Linked DNA regions of Homo sapiens. The protein of the gene in region 1 purifies or fractionates together with the protein of each later gene. This does not show direct contact. Each region holds a gene or a part of one and is shown in the gene's direction. Other genes may lie near its edges.

Region 1 (4,156 bases):
TCTTATGCAGTGCCCAGTATGTGCAGAAGGGTTCTCTGTTGGAGATACTGTGCATATTGAAGGTGTTTAGGGCACATCCCCAATCAAGATGGCTATCTCAGAAGCAGAAAAACTACCTTCCCTGGCACCCCAGGGGAATGAAGAAGCCCTTTCCCCTGTTGCAGAAGAAAAGCCCTGTCAGGGTACTGGCCAGGGCGGGGCTGGGGTTGGGCGCTGACTGGAATCTGTCCAGGGTGTAGTCACCTGTTTTGCTCTTTATCTTTAGCCTCTTCCCCCATCTTTACCCTTACATACCCATCCCTCTAATTTCTCCTTCAACACTTGACTTACCTGGCCTACCCTATTCCATGTTGGTTTCACTTGTTCCGACCTGAGTTGTTCCCTCTCTTGCCCTGCTTATTTGTCTCGGTTCAGTATAAACTCCGCCTTCCGGGTTCCAGCGGTTCTCCTGCCTCAGCCTCCAGAGTAGCTGGGTACAGGTGCATACCACTAAGCCCGGGTAATTTTTTTTTTTTATTTGAGACGGGGTTTTGTCGTTTTGCCCAGGCTGGAACTCCTGAGCTCAGGTGATCGCCCGGCTCAGCCTCCCAAAGTGCTGGGATTACAGGCGTGAGCCACCGCCTCTGGCCCGGACTCTTGCCCTGCTTCCAAATGCTAGCTAACCTGTGAGCCTTTCGCCTGTCCCCTTTGCCATCCTCAGTGGTGACTCACTTGTCTTCCCTTATGTGCGTCAACTTTCCTTTGCATTTTCACTTGTTTATCCTCACCTGCTCTGCTTTTATCTGCTAGCTTAACATTCCTGACTCGCACCTGATGCCAGTACGCCCTCACCCCGACCCCGCCAGGTCAAAGTTTCTTCGTCCCCAGATTCCCGTGTGCTCTCCAGGGGGCGAGGCCTCTCTGGAAGACGGGAAAGCGGAATTTCAGTCCAACCATGAAGCACCTGGTAGTTTCTGATACGGAAAGGGCGGCGCCTTATGGAGAAGCTGCCAATAAAGAGCCGAGATGAAAGGGGTGGCTGAACCAATGAGTCTAGGAGACAAGATCGGGGGATGATCTGGAAAGCGCGATCAGTGAAGCGGACGAACGGCAGGATAAGGCGGGTCTAGTGACAGGAATGGGCCGATGAAGCTCTGTAGGGATGGTGGGTAGGCCGATCGGGCCGTGTCCCCGGCCTCCCGATCCGACGGAATTTGGAAATCCCGGGGCTATTCATACATTGAGCTTTTAGGAGCGGAGGAGAAAAGCCACCACCCTGACGATCCCGGCTCTCGCTCCACCTTCACTCAGGTGGCCCGGCAGCGGAAGTGACGAACGCGGAAGTGGTTTTTCTGTTGCCGAGGGGACGGGCCGGGCAGATGCCAACATGGCAGCGGTTGGGGCTGGTGGTTCCACCGCGGCGCCCGGGCCAGGGGCGGTTTCCGCGGGTGCATTGGAGCCGGGGACCGCCAGTGCGGGTGAGACAGTCTGCCCGAGCAGTCGCATGGGAGGCGGAGGTCGGGATCGCTGGGAGTCGGGAATGTTCCTCACTAAAGTGAGAGGGAGCATCCCGTGTGGACCGACGTGTGTGTGTGTGTGTGTGTGCACATTGTCAGTGTGTTGGGGGCGGGGAAGAGAACATTCTGAGAGTGATTGTGGGATCCTTCCGCATATGGAGAGTAGAGACCATTGTGAGTGTGGTGGGTAATTCTTTTTGGGAAGGCTAAGGCCACCGAAACCATTCTGAATATGTGGAGTCCTTCCGTGTGGAAGAGACCATTCTGCGGGTGTGGGAGTTCCTCACTGAAGAAGGGGGAGACTATTCTGAGGGTGGTGGTTCCTTCCTTATAAAGGGACAGAGACTATTGTGAGTTAGGGTGGGGCGAGTCCTTCTTTATGTGACTAGAGAGGGTCCATTTTGAGGATGGGGGTGTCTTTCATTATGTGCGGAGGAGACCGTTCTGGGGGCTCCCTCCTAATGGAGGTAGAGTTCATTGTACATTCGGGTGGGAGGGCTCATCGTTATATGGTGGAGAAAGAACGTTCTGAGAGTGCCGGGTCCTTCCTTATAGCAGAGAGAGCTCATTGTGAGTGTGGGTAGAGCAAGGAAAAATTCATTAGCTAGAGGGTCCGTGTGCGGTGGTGGGAGGGCAGACCATGTGGAGTGCAGGGAAGTATTTCCTCATCTGGTTGAGGGAGCCAGACCTTTCTTGGTGGGATAACCATTCCTGATACAGGATTCAGTCCCTGGGAGCATGTGGGAATCATTTCTTGTATTTAGTAGACTATTCTGGTTCGAGAGGAACCAGTTGTCACAGGAGTGAGGGGTTGGAGAGACCATTCTGGGTATGAGGAGGATCATTCCATATGGGATGTAGGCCATTCTCAGTGTGAGGGAATCGAATCATTTCTTAGATAGGAGAAAGACCGTTCTTAGGGGGTGAACATACCTCATACAGTGGCCTCATTCCCTGCATTGATGTGTTATTCTTTACATGAGACAGTCCCTCATTAAACAGGAGCATCATTTCATATAAATTCTCAGTTTGCTAATCCATAAATGGGAATCCTCGCAGTTCTTTTGGAGATGACAGTGATATGAGTCTATTGAGGTAATCCATAGAAATCCCTTAACCCAGTGATAGGCATACAGTAAACACTCAATAAACGTGGAGAATGTAGTTGTCGGTATTCTTTCTGGGGAAGAGTTGCTTCTCACTTGGGAGGAAGCCGAGGCGCGTGGCCAGGGTTTGCCTCAGCCATTACCTGACACCTCAGTAAGGATTCCAGGTATGGACTGGGACAGGGTGGGGCCCATTTCTCCCTTCTGGCTCTTCCTGCTCATGGCTGAGGCAGTAAGCCGGTAGGAGTCAGACCCTTATTGGGTGAGGGCAGGCAGGCTGAGGGAGCAAGTAGCCATGGCTAGGAGGGTCCTGGGTGAGAAAGAAAGGGGGTGGGTGGTGGTGTGGCTATGCCCCAGCGGCTTCTGACCCCGTCCTTCCCCCTTGCCCCTTCCGTTCCCCACAGCTCACAGGCGCCTGAAGTACATATCCCTAGCTGTGCTGGTGGTCCAGAATGCCTCCCTCATCCTCAGCATCCGCTACGCCCGCACGTTGCCAGGGGACCGCTTCTTTGCCACCACTGCTGTGGTCATGGCGGAAGTGCTCAAAGGTCTCACCTGCCTGCTGCTGCTCTTCGCACAGAAGAGGGGTACGAACCAGGGATGGGGCTGCACTGGGGTCGGTGGGTGAGACTCCACATGTATGTGTGTGTGTTCACACAGATGGTTTGCTTCAGGAGTGTCTCCAAATCTCAACCTGCCTGGAGCGCCACTCCAGCTATGCGTAGCGGCATCTTACACTTTTCTAGCCCTAACAGCCGGGTAGCCGGCCTGTGTGGGCTGTAGGAGTGAGATTGCCAATGCTTATAAAGTAGCAGGGATCTCTCACATGTGATTTAGCTTCATATTATGGAGAATTCCGAATACATGCAAAATCAGAGAGAATAATCAAATAGTAAAATATCCATGTACCCATCCCCCAGAGTCAGCAATTAGCAACTCATGGCCGCTTTAAACAACATCAGTGATTGTTCACTCACTGCCAATCTATATGTCTACCTACGTCCTTATCCTCTTATTATTTTTAAGTAAATCCCACACGAAGTAATATTGTATGGAAGTAAATTCCCCTGAATTATCTTGAATAAATGTAGCTGGGATTACAGGCACGTGCCACCACGCCCAGCTAATTTTTTTGTATTTTTAGTAGAGAAGGGGTTTCACCATGTTAGCCAGGATGGTCTCGAACTCCTGACCTCGTGATCCGCCCACCTCAGCCTCCCAAAGTGCTGGGATTACAGGCGTGAGCCACCAGGCTGGCCTTGTTTGGTATCTTCTAAATCTGTTAATCTCTAGGGGTTTTTTGGTCTTTGCAATTAATTTGTTGGAGAAAACAGGTCATTTGTTTTGTAGACTTTGGGTAGTCTGGATTTTGCTGACTGCCTCCCTAAGGCAAATATTCTCAAAAATTTAACAAGTATTCTGTCTTCTACATCTCTTGTAAATTGGAAGTTGGGTTTATCTGCTAATTTCAACATCTCCCTGAAGGCCTTCTACTTTGAAGTGTTGCCCAATTGTTTCTCTAAAAAGGTCTTGCATAAGTAAAGGGATGGAGAT
Region 2 (3,145 bases), on another chromosome or scaffold:
GTTTTATTATTTATGAAGTGGTTAGAAAAAAAAAATCTCTAATATTGTTCAACAAATTCAGATAGGAAAAATCTTCTCAGAATTGAAGTTTTGCTAAGAAGGGATTTAATCTTTCTTTGCCTGCCACCGGTGTATGTGTGTGATTGTGTGTGCACATATACTTGTTGCCCTCACCTTTACACTCTGCCCCTCTTAGAGCTTCACTAACTCTCAAATCTCTAACTTAAGTTTACACTTTTCTTCTGAGCTCTAGATATTTTCCAAATTTAACATGTTTAAAAAGTACATTTATTTCCCCCCGATTCTTCACTGCTCACTTTTATACCGACTGATTACAAAGAAAAACAGATGGAAAACACACACATACACAGAAAGCTTAACTGTTGTTCTATCTTCAGTAGCAGCAGCACCAGCAACCTTATCAAATAAGCAACATCTTCAGGGTTGTCTTGAACAGTTCTCATCACCCATCAAGTTTGCTGGCTGATCCTCTAATTTGTATTCTCCTCCGTGCCTACGGGCTGCTGATACCAACAAATTTTTTTTTAGAAAGTTATCTTTTTGCATTTTAAGCTTTACAGTTTGTTATTAGGACAGTCAGGATACTTGCTGAATGTTCACATGTATAAAATGTGAATTTTAAGACTTCACAATAAAACACTGAATGAATTACTATAACGTTATATTTAGCAAACATTGTTTACATTCCATATGTAGAACACTTTACATCTTAGTAAAGGGGAAGAGGAACAAGAGCAATAAAAGAAGTTGAAAAATATTTGCTGCTATTCATCAGTCAAATTAAGGAACTGAAGTACAAGCAATCAAATAGAATGGAATTATAAAAGATGGTAAAGCTGCAAGACATTAATAGAATAGATGCTTGCTGCTCCAAGTGTGGATCATGGACCAGCAGCTTTAGCATCACCTTGGAGGTTGTTAGAAATGCAGGACTTTAGGCCCCTGCTGAATCAGAATCTGCATTTTAACAAGATCCCCAACTAATTTGTATGCACATTAAAGTTCGAGAAGCCCTGGCCTCGATACTTGTGACCTAACATTGTTTTAAGTTTGTAGTGTGCTAACGAATTTAATCTCCCACAACAACCCCGTAAGGCAAGTACCATTGCTATTTCCCATTTTATAGTTGAAGAAACCTGTTTGACCGAGGTTCCTCAGGTAGTAAGTGGCAGAGCTGGAATTTACACCCAGACATTTTGCTTTTGTATTTCTCAGTTGACTATGCTGTACTCTCTATATAAAGGGCTAAGTGAATATGGACTAAAAGCAGCTTACAAATAGGGCTTGGCAAATAAGGAAAGACAACTTGAAGGTGAGATGTGGGTGCATGGCCCTAAACTCTACATTACATTTTTTTAAACACATTCACATGTTCATTTGAAGAAATGTATTATTCATTATTGCTGTCTAAAGAGATGAATTTGGTGACCGCATCTTTTTTCTAGAATGTCAAAGTGTTATTTATTTCTCTTAACAATGAGTAAATGATGTCTTTATTACTAAACAGGATTTATTAGAATCAAAGCAAAAGCAAACACTGTATTTGAATTGATACATAGTAAATGCTCAACTAGTTGGATTTTGTCCTTTTTTTTCTAAATCTGAATGACGCTTGAGTTAATAGCACTTAATGTCAGTGTGTGCACTGATGTTTTTAAGTTTGATTGCCCACTAATCTTTTTCATTTATACAGCAGACTGAGAGGAAGATGAATTGTTGAGCTATCTGCTTAGGGGTGAAAATACTAGAAAACTTTTAACACTTTGTGTCTTCTTGGGAAATTTTTCACAGAAGAATCCCAGAGGATTTGTTTTTGTTTTTGATCTATTCTTTCCAGATAACTGTAGTAATTGATTTAAGTTTTAATCTGTTACAGAGAAAAACACTAAAACTTTATAGACAAATGATAGACAAATGGCATATACTCAAATATTTATAGCTGTTTAATGGCATTTTATAGACATTTATTTGGGTTTTGTTCTTATTTTTGTTTTTAATTAAGGGAGTAGTGGGGTAGATGTGAGTTCATTGTGGCATTCAGCTTATATTTGCTTGGCTTTTTCATGGTCGGTGACACCCTAATTCCTAGCATGATAAATAGTAACCCTTTGTGCTTGATTTTGTTTAACTTATTTGAGTTGTTTTCAAAATACATTCTTTTTAATTTAAAAAATCAGCTAAGCTTGTGTATGGTTAAGTTTTTGTTTTGTTTTGTGTTTGATTTGTTCTTTTAGGGAAAAAATCCTATAAAATGGCTATTAAATTTTTAGCCAATGACAATGAGATTTTCTTAATATTACTTTGAATTCTTTACCTCTTAATTCTTAGAGTATGTGGTTTTGTTGTTCTGTAGTGTCTTACTAAAATATTCATTTTTTTACAGTGTATTGCAAGTTCCACTGCATTACATGCAAATATGATTCACTCATACCTAGCTGTTTGTGGATTCAAACTCATAAATGAACCATTTTTAAGTTGTTAATAGTGTACTGACATATTTCTGTATTTTCTGATATTTACAGATTCGAGTGGTGAATGCATTTCGTAGTTCTTTATATGAAGGGTTAGAAAAACCGGAATCAAGAAGTTCGATTCACAACTTTATGACACATCCTGAGTTTAGGATAGAAGATTCAGAGCCTCATATCCCCCTTATTGATGACACTGATGCCGAAGATGATGCTCCTACAAAACGTAACTCCAGTCCTCCACCCTCTCCCAACAAAAATAACAATGCTGTTGACAGTGGAATTCACCTTACAATAGAAATGAACAAGTCTGCTACCTCTTCATCCCCAGGAAGCCCACTACATAGTTTGGAAACATCACTCTGATTGTAAGCTGAATGTTAACACACTAGCTGCATTGTAAAGAAACAAATTGAAACTGGGTCTTTTCACATATTGTGATGGACAAGCTAGTATTCTTGTCTTTGGACTTCAACAGAAGACACACTTGTACGAATGTAGATTTATTTTTTTAAAAAAAAAAAAGCAAAGCTTTCTGCCAGACTGAGGGTGCTTTTTGGGGGGTGGGAGAAATGAACTGACAGATAAACAGTAACTCAGCGTAAGTGACCTGTGGATCATCAGTAGTACCCAAGCATGGTCCTGAACAGTGTATT
Region 3 (3,018 bases), on another chromosome or scaffold:
AAAAATTAGCTGGGTGTGGTGGCAGGCGCCTGTAATCCCAGCTACCTGGGAGGCTGAGGCAAGAGAATTGCTTGAACCTGGAGGCAGAGACTGCAGTGGGCCGAGAGCGCGCCATTGCACTCCGGTCTGGGCAACAGAGCGAGACTCGTCTAAAAAAAAAAAAGATCTTGAACATCTTTGGCCCCTACATGCCAGTAGTGCCTTCCAATCATTTTGACTTTCAAACACTGCCACACCTTTCTAATCCCACCCCACCCATCTTCTACCGGTCCTCTCCACCTTGCTCCTTCCCACCCGCTCCCCACCCCGCGCCCCCCTCCCCCCCGCACACACAAAGGGAGGCAACCCCAGCCCCAACAGATATAACCAAACCATGAGTCACTGTACACACCGCCTTGGAGGCAATCACTCCAGGAGAGCTGCTTTCATGCACTATGCATCTATTTTTTTTTTTTGTCTTTCCTAATTTCAAGTTCAAGATGGTGTCCCTAGCTTTAATTGTATACAAGGACCAGGCAAACACCATGCTCTTAACTTCAACTCAATCTGTTGAGCAGGAGTTCCTTAATACAAGATGTGGGAATTATATGTTAAAGAGAAAACATTGTTTGCCACTACCCAGTATGGAAAGAACGAGTTACTAAAATTTGGCCAAATATAATAAGTAATATTTAGTATAAGTTTAACATAAGGTCCGTGTCTTCCATGTCAAAAACGGGATCTTTGTACTTTCTAAGTAAAAAGAAGGTCCTGTAGTAGAATTCCAAAACTAGAGGACAGATACCTCCAGGGAATCCTTAACAAAGGGGAGGAGACCAAAGACTTGGTAATGATCTAAGAATTCCTACAGGTTTTTATCAGCTTTGTCTAAGTAATCAGCATAATCACTTCGGTTCTGTGCAAGTGTACCTCAACTTTGGGGTCTTCTATGAGGGGCCTGAGACTGATCACAAACAGAAGGAAAGAAAACAACTGAATGATACTCTGGATGCAATTGAGGTAAGGAAGTGTTTTGTGGAAGAGAAACATCTGTGGAAACTGATTTTTAACTTCAGAGGGAAGATGACTTCATTTAGGTAGAAACCAAACAGGCAAGGGGATGTGAATTTCTTCATAAATTATGACTTGGCTGGGCACGGTGGCTCACGCCTGTAATCCCAGCACTTTGGGAGGCCGAGGTGGGTGGATCACCTGAGGTCAGGAGTTCGAAACCAGCCTTTCCAACATGGTGAAACCCTGTCTCTACTAAAAATACAAAAATTAGCTGGGCGTGGTGGTGCGCACCTGTAATCCCAGCTACTCGGAAGGCTGAGGCAGGAGAATCGCTTGAACCCTGGGAGGCAGAGGTTGCAGTAAGCCGAGATCACGCCACTACACTCCAGTCTGGGATACAGCAAGACACCGTCTCAAAATAAATTACGACTTGAAGCTCTTGAAATTCCATCTTCGTTTTATACCAAGGGTTGGCAAACTATGTATGGCTGACAGGCCAAATCTGGCCCATTGCCTGTTTTTCTTTAAATTGAGATATAATTCATACACCGTACACCATCTAAAAGTGTGTAAGTCAGTGGTTTTTTAGTATATTCACAAGGCTGTGCAACTATCAGCATCTAATTCTGGAAGTTTATCACCCACCCCACCCTCAAAATCCCACTCCCCATTAGTCATTCTCCATTCTATTACCCCAGGCCTGCCTATCACTGTTCTACTGTCTCTATAGATTTACCTATTCTATACTTAATTTTTGAGACAGGGTCTCACTCTTGTCCAGGCTGCAGTGTGCAGTGGCTTGATCACAGCTCACTGCAGCCTCAACCTCCTGCGCTCAAGCAATCCTCCCACCTCGGCTTGCCAAAGTGCTCAGATTCAGCACTTTGAGCCACTGAGCTGAGATTACTCAGCATTATGAGCTACTGTGCCGAGATTAATCAGCACTTTGAGCCACTGTGGCTGGCCTCTATACACTTTATTTAAATGGAATCACACAGTACATGGGATTTTGTGACTGGCTTATTTTTATTATTTTTTGAGACGGAGTTTTGCTCGTTGTCCAGGCTGGAGTGCAATGGCGCAACCTCAGCTCACTGCAACCTCTGCCTCCAGGGTTCAAGTGATTCTCCTCCTCCCAAGTAGCTGGGATTACAGGCACCTCTCACCATGCCCGGCTAATTTTTGCATTTTTAGTAGAGACAGGGTTTCACCATGTTGGCCAAGCTGGTCTCAAATTCCTGACCTCAGGTGATTGGCCCGCCTCGGCCTCCCAAAGTGCTGGGATTACAGGTATGAGCCACCGCGCCCAGCCAAGACTGGCTTCTTTAATTTAGCATGTTCTCAACGTTCATCCATGTTGTAGCATGTATCAGTACTTTTCTTTTTATGGCTGAATAATACTCTCTTTTATGGATACACATTTTATTTATCCATTCATCAGTTAATGGACATGATGGATATTTAGGTTTTTCCACCTCTTGGCTATCATAACGTGGCTATGGACATTTGCATGCAAGTTTTTGTGTTAGCATGTTTTCATCTGTGTATACCTGAAAGTGGAATTACTGGAGACTGTTTACCACAGTGGCTAAACCATTTTAAACTCTTGCTAGCAGTGTATGAAGGTTCTAATTTCTCTACTTCCTCATCAACACTTATTTTTTGTTACAGTCATCCTAGTGGGTGTGAAATGTTATCTTGTGGTTTTGAGTTGCATTTCCCTAATGATTAATAATGTTGAGCATCTTTTCACGTGCGTATTGGCCATCTCTCTTCTTTGGAGAAATGTCTGTTCGAGTCCTTTGCCCATTTTAGGCCAGGCCAGTTGGCCCAACACCTGTAATCCCAGCACTTTGTGAGGCTGAGGTAGGATAGCTTGAGCCCAGGAGTTTGAGACTAGCCTGGGAAACATGGTAAGACCCTGTCTCTACAAACAAAACAACTTTTTAAATGACCCGGGTGTGGTGGCACATACTTGTGGTCCCAGCCACTCGGGAGGCTTAGGTAGAATTGCTTGAACCCAGG
Region 4 (3,500 bases), about 100 Mb from region 1:
CTGGTGATGTCTGCCATCACCGTCATCATCCTGGTCCTCTACTTTGTGATTGAGACGTTTGTCGTGGAAGGCCGGACATGGCTGGCAGAGTGCACGCCGGTCTATGTACAATACTTCGTGAAGTTCTTCATCATTGGTGTCACTGTGCTGGTCGTGGCTGTCCCAGAGGGCCTGCCTCTTGCTGTCACCATCTCCTTAGCTTACTCTGTCAAGGTAATCATAAAACTTACAGTTGATACTGTTTACAGACTCGGAAACTGGGGTAAGAAGTCATTGGGCGCCTTGGTGGCAGTATAAACTGGGGACGTTTGGGATAGCTCAAGGGAGGAGAGGAGGTGCCGAGCAGGGACCCAGGGGGCAGCTTTGCTGATCTGTCAGCTCAGGTCCCTCGGCATGAGATGGGCCAGAAAGCAGGCAGGCGGTGAGATACCCAGGGGTTCAGCATCTGCACAATGTGGGCAGTAGGACGGAGGGGCTGGGAGGCAGCGGGGAAGCGGAGAATCAGCAGAGGGCCCGGGACACTGGGAGGCAGTGGGAGGAGGTGGGGGGAGCCAGGTGTGGGGTGGTGGGGTGGTGGGGTGGTGGGGTGGGAGAGCTGCAGGGCTGGTGGGTAACTGAGAGGGGGCTCGGGCAGGGGAGGTCCCGGGTGCGCATCCCGCCCCCACCATTGGATGAGGTTGCTGATGCCTTACAGCCTCGCTATTGGCTCAGGGCTGACCAGGTGCCCAGTGGGCTTAGTGCCACACGTGGAGCTAGCTGAGCAGAACAGAGTCACGCGATGTTTGTGTTGACATCTCTCACTCCTCCACCCCAACAAGCACCTGGGCCAAATGCCCACACCCTCGCCCTTTGCAGAAAATGATGAAAGACAACAACCTGGTGCGCCACCTGGATGCCTGCGAGACCATGGGCAACGCCACAGCCATCTGCTCCGACAAGACGGGCACGCTCACCACCAACCGTATGACCGTGGTCCAGTCCTACCTAGGAGACACCCACTACAAAGAGATTCCGGCCCCCAGCGCCCTGACCCCTAAGATCCTCGACCTCCTGGTCCATGCCATCTCCATCAACAGTGCCTATACCACCAAAATACTAGTGAGCTGGGGCAGGAGCGGGCGGGCAGGGCCGGGGGCAGGAGCAGGGGAGGGTCCTGGCCAGGGTGCCAGGTGAGCTGTTGCAAGGTGCTCATTAGGCCCCCCCTTGAGAACTTTTGCCCATCCCTGGCCTCACAGGTGGCTCTGGCTGGGAAACTGCCTGTAGCTAAGGCCGACCTTCCTCTGCTCCCTGCCGCCCACACCCTAACAATGTGGTGACCACGAGGGGGCAGAGCTGGGGCTCCAGGGGCAGCATGGAGGGTGGTCTCAGGCCCCCAGTGCCTGCTAGCCCTCGTCATCTTGCAGCCTCCTGAGAAGGAAGGCGCCCTCCCACGCCAGGTGGGCAATAAGACGGAGTGCGCCCTGCTGGGCTTCGTCTTGGACCTGAAGCGGGACTTCCAGCCCGTGCGCGAGCAGATCCCGGAAGACAAGCTTTACAAAGTGTACACCTTCAACTCGGTCCGCAAGTCCATGAGCACAGTCATCCGCATGCCCGACGGTGGCTTCCGCCTCTTCAGCAAGGGGGCCTCAGAGATCCTCTTGAAAAAGTGAGTGAGCAGCAGGGAGGTGCCGGGGTACGCACGGAGTTTCTGATTCTATTGTCGTGGTAAAAGAGGCCGAACGTAAAATTCACCATTTCAACCACTTTACAGTGTACAGTTGAATGGCATTAAGCACGTTCACAATATCATGCAACCGTCACCACTACCCAGTTCCAAAACACCTCCATCAACCCGGAAAGAAACCCCAGGCCCATGAGCAGCCCTCCCCACGCCCCTCCCCAGCCTCATGTGCTTCCTGTCTGTATGGATTTGCCTGTCTGGACATTTCCTATCAAGGGACTCATACACTGTGTGGCCTTTTGTGTCTGGCTTCTTTCCTTAGTGTAAAGTTTTTCCGTTTCCCTCAGATATTAGACCTTCCTTTCTTTTTTTGTTTTGTTTTGTTTTTTCCCTCAAGCCATCCTCCTACGTCAGTGTCCCCCGTAGCTGGGATTACATGTGCATGCCACCACGCCCAGCGAATTTTCAAATTTTTTGTAGAGCTGGGGTCTCCTCATGTTGCCCAGGGTGGTCTTGAAGTCTTGGGCTCAAGCGATCCACCCACCCGGCCTCCCTAAGTGCTAGGATTACAGGAATGAGCCACTGCCACCAGCCCGAACTTCCATTCTTTCTAAGGCTGAGTAATATCCATTGTATGCTAAAGAGCATTGTGTTGGTCCATCCATCCCTTCATCTGTCTACCAGCACGTCTACCAGCACGTGAGTCGTTTCCACCTTTTGGCTGTCACGAGTCACGCTGCTGTGAATATTCACGTACAAGTTTTTGTTTGAACCCATGTTTTCAATTCTTTTGCGTGGACATCTAGGAGAGGAATGGCTGGGTCGTGGTGTCCACGAAACTGTTTTCCACAGGGGCAGCACCGTTTCACATTCCCACCAGCGACATAGGAGGGTTCCACCTTCTCCCCATCTTCAACAGCACTTATTTTCTGGTGTGACAATGCTGATGGGGGCCATCCTTGTGGGTGTGAGGCAATATCTCCTGGTGGTTTTGATCTGTGTTTCCTTGATGACTAACAACGCTGAGCCTCTTTTGCTGTGCTGACTGGCCATTTGCCTGTCTTCCTTGGGGAAATGTCTGTCCTAGCCCTTTGCTCATTGCTGAGTTGGGTTGTTTGTCTTTTTATTGTTGGGCTGTAACATTTTTTCTGTATTCTGGATCCTAGATCCTTATCAGCTATGCGATTTCTACACATTCTGTCCCATTCTGTGGCCTGTCTTCACTCTCTTGATAGTGTCCTTAGGTGCACAAATGTTTTAAATCGTGATGACGTCCAGTTGATCTATTTTCTTGTTGTTGCTTAGAGATGATGAAAATTTTCTTAGAGATGATGAAAATTTTCTGGAATTGGAGACTGGTGATGGTCGTGCAGCTCTGTGACTATACTAAAAACCATCGAATTATCTACTTTAAATGGGTGGACTGTGTGGTGCGTGAATTATATCCCAATAAAGCTATTAGAACAAAGTAAGGGAGAGTGCACAGCGTCACCTCCAAATGCCCTGGCTTCCCCACTCCCACTCAGCCTTCCCGGACTCCACACCCTTGGCCTTGGCGTCTCTGTCCACAAGTCACCTCGCTCCTCATGACTGCCGTCCCAGGGCCCTCAGGGCAAGGTCCTCTGCAGGACGCCCAGGGCTCCCCAAAGGCCCAGGCCCACGCTCCTTCCTGTGTTCTGCGGACTGGACCACCAAGTGCACCCTGCCTGGCCGCCCCACCCACAGCGCTCTCCCAGAACTCTGCCAGGTGCAGCGCTCACTGCCAGGGCCAGGACCACCTCCTCCCTGGAGCCATCCCTGCTGGTGTGGGGGCCTCAGCCCTCTTTCTGTGCTTCTTTTT

Evidence for each region. Proteins that work in one complex are often made in the same cells at the same time.
Region 2: the proteins of SLC35A2 (region 1) and ATP2B1 purify together in Homo sapiens (affinity purification with mass spectrometry; one large-scale study listed by BioGRID and IntAct). This does not show direct contact.
Region 3: the proteins of SLC35A2 (region 1) and TMED6 purify together in Homo sapiens (affinity purification with mass spectrometry; one large-scale study listed by BioGRID and IntAct). This does not show direct contact.
Region 4: the proteins of SLC35A2 (region 1) and ATP2B3 purify together in Homo sapiens (affinity purification with mass spectrometry; one large-scale study listed by BioGRID and IntAct). This does not show direct contact.

What each region holds. Positions count from the first base shown.
Region 1 is NC_000023.11:48,908,847-48,913,002, reverse strand, and holds the start of SLC35A2 (UDP-galactose translocator), read left to right. Parts: upstream 1-1,356; 5' UTR 1,357-1,366; coding exon 1,367-1,457; coding exon of another isoform or gene 1,458-1,496; intron 1,497-2,685; coding exon of another isoform or gene 2,686-2,769; intron 2,770-3,006; coding exon 3,007-3,189; intron 3,190-4,156. UniProt on the Homo sapiens protein: Transports uridine diphosphate galactose (UDP-galactose) from the cytosol into the Golgi apparatus, functioning as an antiporter that exchanges UDP-galactose for UMP.
Region 2 is NC_000012.12:89,590,694-89,593,838, reverse strand, and holds part of ATP2B1 (plasma membrane calcium-transporting ATPase 1), read left to right. Parts: intron 1-2,543; coding exon 2,544-2,855; 3' UTR 2,856-3,145. UniProt on the Homo sapiens protein: Catalyzes the hydrolysis of ATP coupled with the transport of calcium from the cytoplasm to the extracellular space thereby maintaining intracellular calcium homeostasis.
Region 3 is NC_000016.10:69,345,769-69,348,786, reverse strand, and holds part of TMED6 (transmembrane emp24 domain-containing protein 6 precursor), read left to right. Parts: intron 1-850; coding exon 851-999; intron 1,000-3,018.
Region 4 is NC_000023.11:153,548,642-153,552,141, forward strand, and holds part of ATP2B3 (plasma membrane calcium-transporting ATPase 3), read left to right. Parts: coding exon 1-213; intron 214-855; coding exon 856-1,098; intron 1,099-1,403; coding exon 1,404-1,645; intron 1,646-3,500. UniProt on the Homo sapiens protein: ATP-driven Ca(2+) ion pump involved in the maintenance of basal intracellular Ca(2+) levels at the presynaptic terminals. Uses ATP as an energy source to transport cytosolic Ca(2+) ions across the plasma membrane to the extracellular compartment.